Regions from separate parts of the Homo sapiens genome. Here region 1 is linked to region 2. The links come from fine-mapping of genetic effects on gene expression. Tissue or cell type: whole blood. Region 2 holds a variant in brackets; the other region holds the start of a gene. All regions are shown on one strand. Distances are between the middles of the regions.

Region 1 (8,189 bases), 53 kb after region 2:
AAGATACTCAGCACAAATAATGATGGAGACAAGTAAAGAGTACCTGTTAAATTATGATGATCGTAATTTAACAGACTAATACATTGAAGGAGTTGTTAGCAGAGGACAGAATCAGTGTTTATTAAATGTTTTCTATGAATAAGATGTTGAAATAAATAGGGACTTAAGCTTCTAAGCAGGCATCAGTGTCCCTATTTCCTAGCTGCAGAGCCAAAAGATCATCTCTATAGAATAACTTGCCTCAGATTTCAGCCAGACTCTCAAAATCCACACTACCACAGCTGCTACAGAGAGTTAGAATAAAGTCAGACCAAAGGGATGTCTCCTAACAACCCTATCAGTGTAAACCATGCATTATCATTTAAAAAAAAAAAAAAGGCAGCAAATGAATGGCTAACCTGAATTTATCCACCGAAATATCACTTACCAAATGTTCTGTAACCTTCCTATTCTTTGGTGTTTCTTTTTTCTTTTCTTCTTCTTTTTTTTCCATGCAGAACAATTTCCAAAATGGGCAAAGAGCACAGTAGGTGGCTCTCTTTAATATTTCATGGGCAAGGCAACAGTGACTCACCAGATCCTACATCTGTGTCACCAGCAAAAGCCTGATGAAGTTGAGCAACAAATGAAGCTGTGTATAGGCTGGAGATAATCTTTGTTTTTTTCTACGTCCTCTGATTTCCTCAAGCCACATTCTGCTTTCCTAACCGTGCCAGGTAAGATGATGCTAACTGCTTACCTATAGGAGCAAACATATGCTCCAAAATGCCAAAAGCAAGGAGCAAAATGTTCCTTCTACATCTGCGTTTGCAAGCCTGTGTGCTTGCTACAAAGAAGAGAAATCTAATGGCCTATGAGAAGTCTCAGCAGATGAACAGCCCCACTGCCTGGGCCAGAAACAGATCCCTTCATCTTCCAACATGAGCCTCCAGCCATCACTTTCCACAAGGAGGAGTGAAACTCCAGACAAGTAATCAGCACCACCAGGAAGCAGTGGTCTCTTTCTGCAAATGCCACCTTTGCACATTATTCTGTCTACTCTACTCAGTACCCACAAAATTGTCAAAAAAAAAAGTTGAATAATGCCATGGACACTCATAACATTTGTTGTTCAATCTTCTTCCCAGCCTTTGAACTAGCATGAGGATGGCAGAGGGAAGAAACCACTCACAACAGGAAGAAAAGAGTGATATAATTCTGTACTTTATGTCTTCTTAGTTAGTACCCTTTCTCTTAGGAATCAAAGGTGTATTACATCCAACACAGGAGAGTAGGAAGGTTGTCTTAGAGACCATTGCTTTAAATACCCTCTTATGACAGTTGGCTCCACTAAACTCTACAGAACTGTGCTTAAGGATTGTTCTCTTTGCAAGAAAATACCTGCTTTTCAACAAAAAGGATATCCTGAAATAACCAGACAAATAAGGTCAACTTTATAACTGAAGTAAATTGTTAAATATCTCATTGGCGAGGAAACAGAGTGTGATGGGAAATGCCCTAAACTAGACATGAAAAGGTGTGAACTGTATTCCCAGAGTTGAAACATACTAACACATGACCTCTAGCAACTTTTCATTTCTCTGAGTCTCATTCCAGTTATGTTCTAAATAAATTGAGACTAGCTAAGAAGAGATATCATTTAATGAGCACCTATTCACTACATGTACTTGACATTATTCTATTGAATTTATTCGTTATACAGATTTTTAAAGTAAGCATTTTTTTTTTCCATTTTAGAACTGGATAAAACAGAAACTTCAAATGATTAAATAAACTGCTCAATATCACCCAACTACTCAGGCATGAGAGCTGGAATTTGAAATCAAGTAGGTCTGACCACAAAACCTGGGCTCCTTCCTCTATTAATATTCTTGCCATGTCCTCCCAGGGCTATTGTGAGTAACAAGGAGTATCATATATACAGAATGCACTTTGGAAATTTTAAAGTTCTATACATATATATGGTTTTGGTAACAAGTAATAATCTGTATGAAGATATGGGTATAATTGACCAACCTTTCTTTGAAGAATCAGAACCAAAGGAATTAGCTTTTAATCTCCCTTCCATCCTCATGATCTGACCTTATTTTGAACATTTTCCTTTTCCCCCACAAGGCCCCTGTCTCTCAGGCACACATTCAGTCATATCCCAGCCAGCTCACCACAATGCATGTACATGGAACAAGCTGATAGAAGCAGGTGATCCCATCCTTTACTAATGCTTGGTGCGGGAGGTACTTAAGTGGGCACCACTGGGCTCTTATCTTCCATCAAGATGTATCACACTCTGTTCTCAAGCACTTACCAATACTGCATACAAATGCTATGGCCTGTGAAGGAGGCAGCCAACTACAAATGCTGGACACTCAATTTAAGGACGCATGGCAAAGCCAGTAGATAGTAGTAAATTATTGCATGAAGTTCATCAGAATAAAATCAATTGTCATGAGAAGGGTTAAGGGTGTGGGAGGGAATCCATTTAACTTTAAAATACCAATAATACAGGAAGACTAGTGTGGGCATGTGAATGTCTGTGTGTTCGTGTTTAAATAAGGCAAGTTTGTGTCCAGAAAGGTTTGCATTTAGCAGCATCTCTGTACAATCCAAAAGAAATATATGAGAATTTTGTTTGTTTTCTGATACTAGATGAAAAATGTAAGGTTGCTCGACTGACCTAAGAGAGCAAGGATAGAAGGCTTAGAATAATCTGTAACACAGCTGCAACTTCCAACTTTGTCTTCTTGTCTTTCTGCCTCTCACCCATTTCAAGACCCTCTTTGTCAATAAAGGATGTCTCAGATCAGGGCAGTTCACAGGCCTGAGGTTTGACCTAAAAACTAGTAGGAAATTCATATCACCGAGAAACATCAATTTTACATTTCGAGCTAAGCATCCATGATCCACATCACATATGGACAACATTCAGAAAATTCTTATTATAAAAGAGTTGCTCAAATTCAAAAGAAGAAAGACACCACATTTACAGATTTTTTTAAAATGCCTCTGTAAGATGGTATGAAATCACCTTTCTGAAAACCCACTGTCTGCAAGGTTACTATGTAACAATATTTACAATAGTTGCCATTGGTTTTGAACCAACCAGATGCCAGGCCAGGCACTGTGCTAAACATGCTACTTGAATGATCCCATTTCATCCTTCCAACTACCCAAAGGGCTCATTGTGACCATTATAAATCTCCATTTTTTGGCTGGAAAAAAAAAAAAGGAAGAAAGAAAGAAAAGAAAAACCCAGTATCGGAAAGGTGAGATAACTTGCCCAAGTTCACACTGCTAATACATGGAAGAGCTGGAGTCAAAACTCAAGTCCTCTTTCTCATCCAGTAGCTAAACCAGGGATCTGTACAGCAGAGCAGCAGAATGCTTCGCGTGGCGCCCTGGTTCACAATTTCACAACCAGAAGGTGGAGGGAAGACAGGCTGTGGGCTAGCTCTTAAAGGAAACAGCCGAAGTTTGCTTTTATGTTTGTGATTTTCTCTTTAACTCAGCTTCCTTGCTCCCTCTCAGTATTTAGAAGAGGGAAGGGGCTCTATGGTTCCATGAAGTCAGCTCTTCCCAAGTGAGGGGCACCCTGTGCCCCACAGGGCCACTAGCTCCGCTTCCTCCGGGGCTGGGAAGAAACAGTACCATAGGAGGTCACTGGCGCCCGGGCCTCGCTCCTCTCTCCCCGCGCTCCTCCAGAAGCTGGTCCGACACCCTCTGAAGGGGCATCTTTCTGAGAAAGCAGGTCAGGGGAAGAGGGAGTGAGGCTGCAAGCAGCATTTTCCCAGGCTGTCACAGCTCTGCGCTGAGAGCGACGTGATACCGAGTGGGCGTGCTGGGACACACCGCTTCCTTCTGTCCTCGGCGCTTCCAGCAGCGGTCTGGAGAAACCAAGGAGGAGATGGGGGCGGGGGGTGGTAGCGGGGAGGGGGCGGTGAGGAGGAAAACAAGGGTAGACCCCTCAAAGGGCTGAGGATGGGGGCGGCAACGAGCAGACGTCCCACAACCGCGTTACTTAAATCCCTGCAAAGCAAAGATGGGTCTCTGAACGTTTGGGTTCGAATCCGGGCTCCAGTCCTAACTAGCAGTATGACCTATCCCAGCCGCTGCCTCGTTCTGTGCCTCAGTTTCCTCTTCTGTAAAGTAGGAGGGTTTAACGATAGGATCTCTAAGAATCCGTCTACCCTGAGATTCTGCGGCTTGGTGACTTCTGAGCCCTCACGGCGGCGCGAGACTCACCTTTCTTGGGAAGCTGAGAGGGCGCAGCAAAAGCAGCCGGGATGGGTGCAGTGTCGCCGGGCACTGCTTCCTTCCGCGCCTCTGGCCAAAGCGGACCCCGGAGACCTGGATCCCGGCAGTCTTCCCCAGTGAGCCTCTTACTTTCCGCCGCACTTTCTTTTCCCCCTTTGGGGCTCCTCCCCCGGAGCGGCGCGATTGGCCACGGCCTCACGGCTCAGGCTCCACCCGCCGCCTTGGCTCGCGATCCACCGGCGCTCTGGGCTTCCAGGAGCTGCGGCCGCGGGGCGGCGTCCTGGACGGTCCCGCCCGCCGCCAGGAGGCGCGGCGCCGGGCCCGCCTGCGGACGGATGCAAGGCTGCGCTCGGCCCCTTCGGCTCCCTGCCACCGCCTGTGCGGGCTTGAGCGCGCGGGGAAAGGAGAGGGTTAGTCCTGCAGCGCAGCTCGGCACGCTGCCAGGCGCTGTGGGAAGCTACGCCCCTCACTACACACCGAGGCGCACACATGCGCTCATTGCAAGATCGTGCTCTCGCAGTTGAGATCGGTGCCACCCTGCCCTTTCTTCCTGTCTCGACGTATTTAGCAATCATGCTGCAAGGCCTTGAATCAATTCAGACTGCACGATTTTCGCAACCACCCTGTGCCGGCACAGAGCGCGGCAGGATGTAGATGCGATCTCCGCAGTCCTGAGCTCTTGCTGTCTTGAACTGACATTCATATGAGCAAGCAACAGGACATGACAGCAAGACTAAATCTGTATTGTCCACTGGTAATATACCCATTGCCTAGCACAGTGCCTGGCACAAAGTAGGCACTCAATACATGTATGGGGAACGAATAAAAGAACTAATAGGTTACATAGAAGGAAATAATCTCAAAACAAATATTTGCCTTCATTCATTTCCATTTCCCCAAGTTTTTGCAAGAGCCTTCCTTCAGCTGCCCTCTGCCACTGTAGATGGTAGTCTGTAATATATCCCGGGAAGCGTTATAAAGGCTTTCATTAAGTCATCTCTCTTGTTCAGGCACCTTCTGCTGTGTTCCTACTGCTAGTGCCTCATGATTTTTCCTGACTGGCAAGGCCCTTCATGACCTGTCCCCATTTCTGAAACCCCCTAACCAAAGCCACCTACCAGACTGACGAGTCTTCGCACATCTTCTTGCTCATCACATCTTCTTTTCTCCTCCTCCTACCTAACTGAATCCTACTAATTTATTTTCAAGAATCAAGATTCAGAGAAAGCATTTAAGGAAAAGGAGAAAAAAGATGTGAAATAAGAAAAGGGCCCAGGTGAGTGGGAAGGAAATGAAACCAGCAGGTGCCCGTGCTGCTAAAGGTGCACAGCAGTACGAAACTCAGAGGCTGCCCCTGCCCTGGCGGAGCTTCAGTTCCTAAGGTGAAATATCAGTGTAATTGGAGCCATAGAAATGTTCATGATACTTTACTTCTTGACATCACTTATGAAAATTAATTGCTCAAAATTTTTATTTATCTCAGGATACCTGGGACCCAGCACCTGCTCACAACATTGTCACTGAACCAAAGAGAAAATAATCCAAAAGAATTTAAAATGTTACCTGTATGAAGCAACAATAAAACATTTTCTGATTTATTATTCATTCCTTAAATATATTCTGGGCACAGACTTTTATATATATATAGTACACTGAAGCATTTACACAGTGCTTACAAAATAAAAAGGTGCAATCATAAGGACTTTGTGTATATTAATTCAGGTAACCCTCAATACAACCTGGAGGGTGCTATTATTATCTCCAGTTCATAAAGGAGATAAAGGGAATTTAAATAACTTGACCAAGGCTACAGGCCTACAAGTGGAGAATACAAAATGAGACTAGAGACACTCGACGTTCATGCTCTCAGCCGCTACTCAGTCTCATGTACTACCTAGAAGCCAAACAGATGCTAGTAATTCAGAATTGAACCAGATGTATATTCCCGGACATTGAAGGGCTACTCATAGCTTAAGGAAGATAACATTAAGATGAATAATCATATAGACAAATATTCATAGTATATTGTAGTTTGAACACAATATAAATGGTTGGAAATGAAAATGATTAGTTAACCAACGCTGTCTACGCACAGAATAAAATATTTGCATCATAACTATCATATTATGGAAATATGTCTACAAAGAAAAAGGCTTACAAAATAAGGTTGAGTAAAAGTTGTGGAGAGATGAACACCAATTGAAAGGAATGTGAAAAAATGTTGATATGTTAGGATTACAGAAATAGAAACATCTCTTTTTCCTTTTACATTTAAGTGAAATAAACCAAGCACAGAAAGACAAATTTTGCAAATTCTCACTCACACGTGGGAGCTAAAAATTAAACAAAGGAACTGAGATATGAGAGTAGAATGATGGTTACCAGAGGCTGGGAAGAGTAGCAGAGGCAAGGGAGTTGTGGGGAAGGGAGGATGGTTAACGGTTGCAAAAATATAATTAGCTGGAATGTATAAGACCCAGCACTTGATAGCACAACAGAGTGACTACAGTCAACAATAATTAATTATGCATTTTAAAATAAGTAAGAGTGAAATTGGAATGTTCCTCAAAGAAGTGACAAATGGTCAAGGTGATGACACCCTGTTGTCATTACCCTGATGTGATTATTACACATTGTATGCATGTATCAAAACATCACATGTCACCCATACATATATACACCTATTATGTACCCGTAATAATTAAAAATGAAAAAATGTTATGCTAACAATTGAGAAAAATATTTTAAAGCTATACCCATTAAATATCCATCACATACTAAACATTTGATGAATAATAGTTGCCTAAATGAATAAATGAAGCTACAAATTCATTGATGTCAGTGACTAATACTGCTGGATGTATAGAAGATGCACAATAAAATATTTTGCAATTGATTGATGTATTTGGAAAGGTATTATTATTCTCTTCTTCTCCCAGCTTTTACCCTCCACCTTTTTTTTAGGTTATCTTTAATTATCTTGCTGTAGCTGTAAGACGCATCAGGAGTTTGCTAGTCTCTTGAACCCAATCCATTCAGACATTTATCTCTACCACTCCACAGTCAGCATCTGTAATGATCTTCACTTTGCCAAATGTGGTGATCAATTCTCTGTCTTCATTGTACATGTATCAGCAGCATTAGACACAGATAATCTGTTGCTCTTTCACACTCTCTCGTACTTGACTCTTTGTTTTTCATGTATTTCATCTGCTGTTCCTTATCAGATTCTTATTGAATCCTCTACCTCTTCATGATCTCTGAAGGTTCCAGTGTCCTAGAGCTCAATCCTTGAAGTGGTTATATTCTCTACCTAGGGGAACTCAGACAGACACATGGCCTTCTAAAATATCAATATGATAATAACTTGCAAATCTAAATCTAAAGCCCAAACCAGACTTTGTATACCATATTACCTCCTTCATATCTCCTTCTTGGATGTTTTAAATACATCTCAAACTTTACATGTTCAAATTCAAACTTTATTTCTGCCCCACACCAAACCAGAGCTTTGTAAGCAACACTGTCTTTTACCCAGTTGCTCAGGTCAAAAAGTTGGAGTTATCACTCTCTCTCATTGCCTGTACACATTATATCCACAAACCTTCTGCTTCCTCTACATTCAAAACACATCTCAAATCCAACCACGCTATTCCTCTTCTCCATCACAACCACCATGGTTCAAGTCATTGCCATCTCTCCCCTCACTGGTGTCCCTGCTTAAACTCTTACCCAAAGAGTCTATTGCCCTTACTTCAGAGACCCTTATAAATGAAAATAGAATAAATACAGGCTAGTGATTGAGGTCAAGGAATCTGAAGCCCGACTACCTGGGATCAAGTTTACATAATGTGGTCAAGTTACTTAATTTCTTTTTTTCACAGTTTTATTCTCTGAAAAATATGAATAACAATGACAATAATATACATTATAGTGCT
Region 2 (8,164 bases):
GTTAATTAGCTAGATTTAGTCATTCCACAATGTATAAATACTTCGAAATGTCATTTTACATATGATAAATACAATTTAATCTCTCATCTAGTAATAATAATAAAGGTCTATATTTCAACTATAGTTGTACTTTTTTTTGAGAAAGAGAGAGACAGGGTCTTGTTCTGTCGCCCAGGCTGGAGTGCAGTGGCGTGATCACAGCTCATTTTAGCCTTTACCGGCCAGTCTCAAGTGATCCTCCCACCTCAGCCTCCTGATTAGCTGGGACTACAGGTGTGCATCACCATACTCAGCTATTTTTTTAATTTTTTTTTTGTGGAGTCAGGGTCTTATTATTTTGTGCAGGCTGGTCTCAAACTTCTGGCCTCAAGCAATCTCCCCACCTCAGCCTCCCAAAGTACTGGCATTATAGGCATGAGCCAGTGTGCCTGGCCCATAGTTATACTTCTTATGCAAGGGTAAGTAATTAGGAAAAAATAAAACCCACCATAATAAATTAATAAAAAGCAATAGTTAACAGAAAAAATCACACATAAAAAAAATCATGATCGATGTGCCTGTTTTCTTTTTCTTTCCTCTTGAGTATCTACACGTATGCAGTAGGTCCTGGAGAAGGTTCCACTGAGGAAACGTAATTGGCAAATAGACTAAATTGGTCAGTCTTGGTAGCACTGGGTGGCAAGTCCAAATCTCAAAGAGACCATAACATTTTCTTACATAAGGGAAGGGGGAAACGCAAACACCAGTATCTTGGTGCACATATCAAAATGAACACTACTATAAACCTTAAAGAGCACTTTAAAAAAAATATGAAAGTAGCCTGCCATTCCAGCACTTTGGGAGGCTGAGGCAGGCAGATCACCTGAGGTCAGGAGTTCCAGACCAACCCGACCAACATGGAGAAACCCCATCTCTACAAAAAAATACAGAATTAGTTGGGCATGGTGGCAAATGCCTGTAATCCCAGCTACTAGGGAGGCTGAGGCAGGAGAATCACTTGAACTTGGGAGGTGGAGGTTGAGGTGAGCTGAGATCGCACCATTGCACTCCAGCCTGGCAACAAGAGCGAAGCTCCGTCTCAAAAAATAAATAAATAAATAAATAAATAAATATGAAAGTATCTCAGAAGTAAAAAAAAATGGGCTGATGGATAAGAGCCTTAAACTATTTCAGACCCTACAAACACTGCAGAAAAGTGCTATTTATTTCCCAGTAATGTATAGCTATACCAAGCATTTTGGTTCCTATGGTAGAAGGAGAAATGAATGTCATAAAACACAACAGAATATGGTCTAGGTTGCTGAGGAAGTGATTATTTTATTTATTTTCTCTCATTGTCGTAGTCATCTTGCATTTTCATTATTCCCACTATCTCTAAAACACGCAAAGGCAAAGCCAGAAAATTTTGTACATCAGCTTTTATAGGTTTGGATAGCAGGTAACTTGAAGGTGACTGAGGTTCCCAAATTATTTGTTAAATGTATCCATTTTCTCACTGTTCCTCAAAAATAAATGAGAGATGGCAGCACTCAGTGGATTTAAAAATAAAGCAATCATTGTGTTGTTATCCTGGGTGGGTATATATTTTATTTTCTAAAAAGTTAATCAGTTAAACAGAAAAGAAACTTTTTAAGTGGTGAAAGAAAAGTGGGTAGAAACTGGTCTTGGTAGTGAGTCACTGCTAAGGTGGCAATCTGGTCCCTAAAATATGGTAGAAATGAATATTCAGGGTTGGGGGAGTGAGGGAAAGGATAGCAAAAACAAAGGTAATTCAAAGGGTAGAATAAATTCTTGTAAAACAAACATTTTTTCCTACAACGGTATGCAGGAGTTCCTACAAAAATACTGGTTTCCTTTAACTAACACAGCCATGTGAAAAAGAACCAGGTCATTTTTCTAAACTTAGAATTATCACTGTGATACAAGAAGCTGTGTATTTGCAAACTCAGTATCAAGCCAATTATGTGGTACTTAAATTTCTTTTCAATCAGGCTACAGTAAATCCACCCTTGGGAAATATAAGTAACTAAAATATAAGTGTGCTTCAAGCTATAAACACAGCTAAAGAAAAAAAAAAAAGTGAAGAGATCTGCTTCCGAGAGGCATCATTTAAATGACAACAGGGTGAAATTCTGTAATTCCAATGACCTTTAGGACTAAGAATAAAATGAAACAGTATTCTTCATACATTTTCCAAATGTTTGGACTAAATTACATAGAAATGAAGAGTGTTCAGGATGACCAGCCATGGGCAACTGGGACAGGACACAATGTCACAAGTATATCTGAGCACGGAGTTATTAAAGCAAGGATATTCAAATAAAATGAGGCCACTGGGGCTGGTAACAAACTGAATTCTTACCAAAAGGTGAAAGAACCATCACATAGAATTAATAATAGTGTATGTCCTTGCAAAAATACGACAGAATTTAAAAAAAGGAAAAGAAACCTAGCCAACTATAACCAAAATACATTAAATGTGGACATTCTCTTTACCTGAAGTAATTCCCGTCCTGCATAATTTGTTCCCAACCTACCTTTCCAGCTTGGCTTCTAAATGCCTTTGCACTATCTTTTGAGTTGCCCTGAACTATTTCATTCCCAAATAAGAGATGCGTTTCTTCCTAGGAAGGAGCAATGATTAAGTCTTCCCCAATATCTCCTGATAGGATTGGTAACTTTCTCTGCTCTCACGGAATTCTATTTGGTAATTATTTCCTCTTCCTTCTCTCAAACTTTACTGTATTCCTCTTAAAATAAGAAATTCCTCTTACTAACCCTGGATTCTACAATCTAAAATGGTCAAACGCATGATCTTTAGAATAAAGTGAAATCATTGTTAACATTGTTATTAGAAAGAATTTAAGTAGCTAATAGGAGTATACCCTGTGTGTGTCCATGATGCATAGTGTTCCTTCATAAAAATCAAGAAACTGGAATTGACTGGGATCTGCTGCTATTGTTTGTTAATTGTTTGGTTGGTTGGCTTGGTTTATAAATAAGGATGCAATGACAAAAAGTGATGAAATGACCCCTTTACTGTCATCAAACAAGTCACAGAGTAAAACAGAACTTGAATCTCTCAATTACTAGGAAACCACAGTGTTTTTTACTATTTATTTATTTTGCATTGTATAATTCACTCCCAATCATTGGATAGATGATTTCCATTCTCTACCAATTTTGTAAAATATAATGGAAAAGGAATCAGAGGATCTTACTTCTAGTAGCAGAGCACAGTCCTAAAGAAAGGCAATTATAGTATGGAAAAATAAAAAAGAGCACTGTTTCTGGAGTCAAGGCAGCCTGGCTCTATCAGGCAAGCCAGGCTATCATGAGCACTTGGGCCACCTCCCTGGATCTTCATTTCCTAAACTATCAAACAGGTAGAAGAGTCTCCAGCCCCTACCCCTGTACAATGGTTCCTGCGAAGTTCCTGATAATGTGTGTGAAATCCAGCCCTGCACCTGGCACACAGTCAACTGTTGACTTTGAAATAAAATCTTTCTCAAAGATCCGTGTGTGTGCCTGCATTTTGGGGTGGCAGTGTACTCTCTTTTTCATGTGATTTGTCCAGCAAATAATTTTGATATGGTAATATTTTTTAAATTCACTATATTCTATATGGTGCTATTTTTATTACCTCCTCAACTTGGGATCACAGGTTCCAAAATTTATGTCTACTCCAAAGGCAGCTTTTAACAGTTCAGCTTCCTGACACACTGCCAATGAGGCACAGCAAAAGAGACGTGTATTGAGCTGAAGTTTCCATTTCGAAGTCTTACAAACAGAACTTCTTCGAGTTTATTAGTGAAAATATTTAATACTATAATAAGCAAAAAAAGGAATATTGGGTTTGAATTTTGTATTACAATCATTTTCCTCCTGAAGAAAATGTTTCAGTGCTGTGAGGGGGCAGGATAAGCGTGTAAGGATATACCTTACCTACAAAGCATAGAAACCTATCACAGAGTGGTTCTTCAACAGTTTGCAAAATGATTACCTGTGATCCCTTAGATCTTAATCTTTTTTCTTAGTAATTTATATTCTAATAGACCCCAACTGGAGCATATTTCGTAAAAATAATATGGATGTCAGGAATCCAGAAACTCGTTGAAGTCACAAGCATGCTAAGTATAGCTGTGTGACTTCGAGTAATACAATTAAATACTTTGATCCTAACTTGTCTTACCCAACAAAGGTAGTTACAACAGCTCTGACTACCCCATGGTTTGGGTGTGAGACTGACATTGAATATGTACAATGCAAACTGCTTTTTTAAGCAAAGGGAGCTTTATTATTATTACTATAACTAGCACATTATAATTATAGAATCGCTATTATAATTATCCAAGCTTTAATTCCTTAAAGGGAAATAAAGCTTTCTTAAAAAATCATTTGCTTTTATCATCACCTAAGATGAAAATGTTGCTCCCCCATTCCTGAGGGGATAAGGGGATCACAGTACTGCTACCAGAAAAATCATGATCGGAAGTCAGAATCGTATGACTTCACGGCCAGTTCACTGCGTGTGAAAACACATTGCATGGCGCTAAGTTCTTATGCTTTTATGGTTTCTTTTTTATATTTGAGGATTCTCTTAAAAGGCCCACATGGAAGGACTCAGAACAAAATAAATGTCTTACTAATATGATACGCATGTAGATTGCTTTAGGGTTTTCAGAACATTTCTGCTTTGTTCCTCACATCAACCTGTGTTTCCGTTGAGATGGGAACCTGAGCACAGGGAGAGCCTCATGAAAGACCAACAAATCTGTCAGCATCCACAGATGCCTTGTAAAAGGCAATACTTTCATGTGCAGAGAGGTTGGTTGATCCCTCAAGATGCGCAATGATTTCTTTCTTCCCCCACTAGCCCAGAGCCAGTTGCTCTTTT[C/T]GTTTTTGTCAACAACATGTCCTTTTTGTTCCTCTCCCTCCAACTAGGAAGTGGCATCACTGTCAGACACAATACACCTCTTCATAAGGAAGGCAAATGAGTACGTGCCAGATGGGCTGAGGGGATTACAACATGTTTCCTGCTCCCACGGTGACGCAATGTGGCTGGTATGAGAACTTATCTTATTCAAGAAGTTAGCTTCCCCTGGCAGAATTATGAGTCACAGTTCCTGGATAGAAAGCTCTCTTACCAACAGCACTTGAGGTGGGGGCTGGGGACTCCTTGGATGGATTACAGTAAAGGTCATTCAGAAAAGTAACATGGTCAGGACTGCTGGGAAGGCACCAGCACTCATTAGCTTCTGGAACCTCCATGATCCTTCAGCAATGGTAACACAGTCACCTGTCCCTCTTCCTTCAGGATGAGGGAGGACATAAAACCACATGATGAATTACTGGCATGAACCCAAACACGTTCCATTATAAAACTGGACAGTCTGGGGGCAGGGGAAAGGATGTAAAGGGACATGTATTCAACCATTTAACACCTATGTATTGAGCATCTGCTATGTGTCTATGTGTCAGTATTATTCTGAGTGTTTGGATAACAAACAAAAGTTCCTGAACAAGTTCCTGCCCTCAGGCAGCTTAAAATCCAAGACAGAGGGAGGGAAGGAGGAAGAAAAAGAGATGGAGAGAAAGGAAAGAAGGGAGGCAGAAAAGGAGGAAGGACAGGGAGTTCAGGAAGAAAAAAAGGAAGGAAAAGGAGGAGGAAACAAGAGAAGAGGAAGAGGGAGGAGGAGGAGAGAAGAGAAAGAAGGCTAATATAATATCAGGGAATGTGAGTGTTACAAAGAAAACTAAAACAGGATGGAGGGAGAGAGAGTGACTGGTAGGGATTTTTAGTTAAGATGGTCAAGGAAGCCTCTGTGAGCAGATAGCATTCAAACATAGAACTAAATCAAATAAGAACAAACTAAAATCAAGAATTATATTTAACATATTTGAAAATCAGGACATCAAGAAACTCACCTATCAAACGCGACACCTAACCAAGCAGGACAGATGCTGGACTAAACAGCCAAGGAGCTGTCTCCTAGCGCATCCCAGCCGAATAACATCTCCGGTTATCTACAGCCATTCCTCTGTGAAGCCCCAAAGGGCCAACAAGGCTAGAAGTTACTGCTAGTTTCAGCACTGAGCTGTACTCTGTCCTACTTATACCACTCCTTTAGTACTATTTTTGGTTTCTAATACAATGTTTTATGTGGCATAGAAAAGCTGAAACGCACCCAGAAAAGATGATCAGGATGGTAGGAGAGCTCAAATCCATGTCATATGAAAAACAGTTGAAGGCATATATTGCAGAACACTGAGGTCATGGTTATATGGTAGCTAACTTAACATTGCAGAAGCCCTCTCACAAAGAAAAGGAATTAAAGCAACGATATGTAAAGTATGGTTTATGGTGTTCAGGGGAATTTTACATGAAAAGCTTTATAAAATGAGGACCTCTAGGTTCCCTTCATTACAATTAGAGAACCATTGCATTAGGTTTTGGTTGTTTTGTTTGTTTGTTTGTTTGTTTCTTTTTTTTTTTTCAGTCCTACAGTTGAACCAAGTAAATGTTTGGAAAGAGACAAATTTCAGTTTTAGATACTAAAATCAAAGAGACAAATTTCAGTTTTATGTACTAAAAACTTTCTAAGAATTTGATTAGTCCAAAAACATAGGCTGAAATGTAATGATTAATAGTCAGAGATAGAGAGTGATTCTGGGCATAATTCTGGGAAGAAGAGGAGATCTGAAAAGATGGACTTTCAAATAGCAAGTCTCTTCCATATCTAATTTCACGTGATCCAGGCCCATGATGACTGAGTTTGGTTTTCAAACTCTATAAAGGTCTTAGCTGGTTCCTCTTATAAAGCAACATCCAGAGAAAGAATGAGTCTAAAGACAGATCCTTTCTTTTTCCTATATAGAAACAATATGACAAAAACTCATTATTTTATTTAACATCTCAATGGATTATTACCACTGATAACTTTTCCACCACTGGCTCAAATTTGAAAAACAGATTGTGCTATTATCACTCCCATTTTTCCCCCATAGGACCTGAGGTAAGGGAAAAAAGCAATATTCTAGTTGGCTGAGTGTGAAGGTAATGAAAAATACCTGTGTTTAAACACAGCGGCCCACTGCCCCCTGTGTACTCTATCCCATGAAGACTAGAGACAGCAATGGTTCTTTCCATCATCAAAATTCTATTATTCTGCTTTATGATTATTTGCTACCGCAGAAGACAATGGACATGAATAACATTATGTTTATTTAAATTCATTTTCAGGAAGAGTGGACTCATTACCCTACGCATGACTTGCATTTTAATACATTGTCAAAAGCCATTCACTTACCTGAGGCATCACTTTGCAGGATTCCATAAAAGTAGAGACTCACTACACACCACAGAAGTGTCATCCTGTAACCATAAATACAAAGGTAAGGGAAATCACTTACTACTTTCAAGGGCTTAAATAATAATAACTAGCATTCATGCCTGCTGACTATAGACTAGGGACTGTTCTAAGAATTTTACAATATTAACAAATTTCATTGTCAGAACCAACCAATAAGACAGGTTTTATTTTGTTTCTGTTTTTTTGTTGTTTGTTTTTCAATTCCCATATTACATGCAGATAAAGAAGTTTAATACACAGGTTTAAATAACATAACTAAGATCCTTTGGCTAGAGACAAGTTTCAATAACATCACCACGATCCTTTGGCTAGAGAGTGGTAGAGCTATGATCAAACTCCAGCTTTCTGGCTCCACAACTCTCTTTTTCACTGAACTATAACTGCCTACTTAAAAAATATTCATCTGGATTTTTTGACCAGGATTTACATTTCTGGCAGATAAATTCAACCTTCTTACCCCTCTTTGCATTCCCTTGGTCTATTTCTAGTTGGAATACTTTACAATCCAGGTACTTTTCCCTTTTAGTGACACATAGACACATAGAAAGTCTAGAAATCCTGGATTCAGACTTTGTCTGCAATCTACCATACTGTGAATTTATATTAAGGAAAATATATAAATCTAATTCCTGCTGTTCGTGCTCTCCTCTTCTCACTGGAAGACAGAAATGATGAGGGAGGAGTCAACTTTCTATGATCTTTCGCCTTCCTATTAATAACCAGCTGAAACAGCCAACTGCTGTGAACCATACCCTTACATTTGGTTGCATGATATTTAATGCTGAAGATGT

Evidence for each region. PIP is the estimated chance that this variant, and not a neighbour inherited with it, causes the effect.
Region 1: it holds the start of IL1RAP, and the variant in region 2 is fine-mapped to the expression of IL1RAP in whole blood (TOPMed, PIP above 0.99).

The regions. Positions count from the first base shown.
Region 1 is chr3:190,510,270-190,518,458 of GRCh38, reverse strand. It overlaps IL1RAP (interleukin 1 receptor accessory protein), which reads right to left and starts at 4,374. Exons shown (of 12, transcript NM_002182.4): 1 at 4,240-4,374. RefSeq lists enhancers at 3,184-3,683, 3,684-4,185, 4,938-5,027 and a silencer at 4,438-4,787.
Region 2 is chr3:190,563,500-190,571,663 of GRCh38, reverse strand. IL1RAP (interleukin 1 receptor accessory protein) reads right to left here. Exons shown (of 12, transcript NM_002182.4): 3 at 7,311-7,375. The coding sequence starts at 7,374. Among named protein-coding and RNA genes, the nearest start is that of IL1RAP, 53 kb to the right of the region's middle. RefSeq lists an enhancer at 4,608-5,807. The variant C/T (reference allele first, on the strand shown) is at 4,898.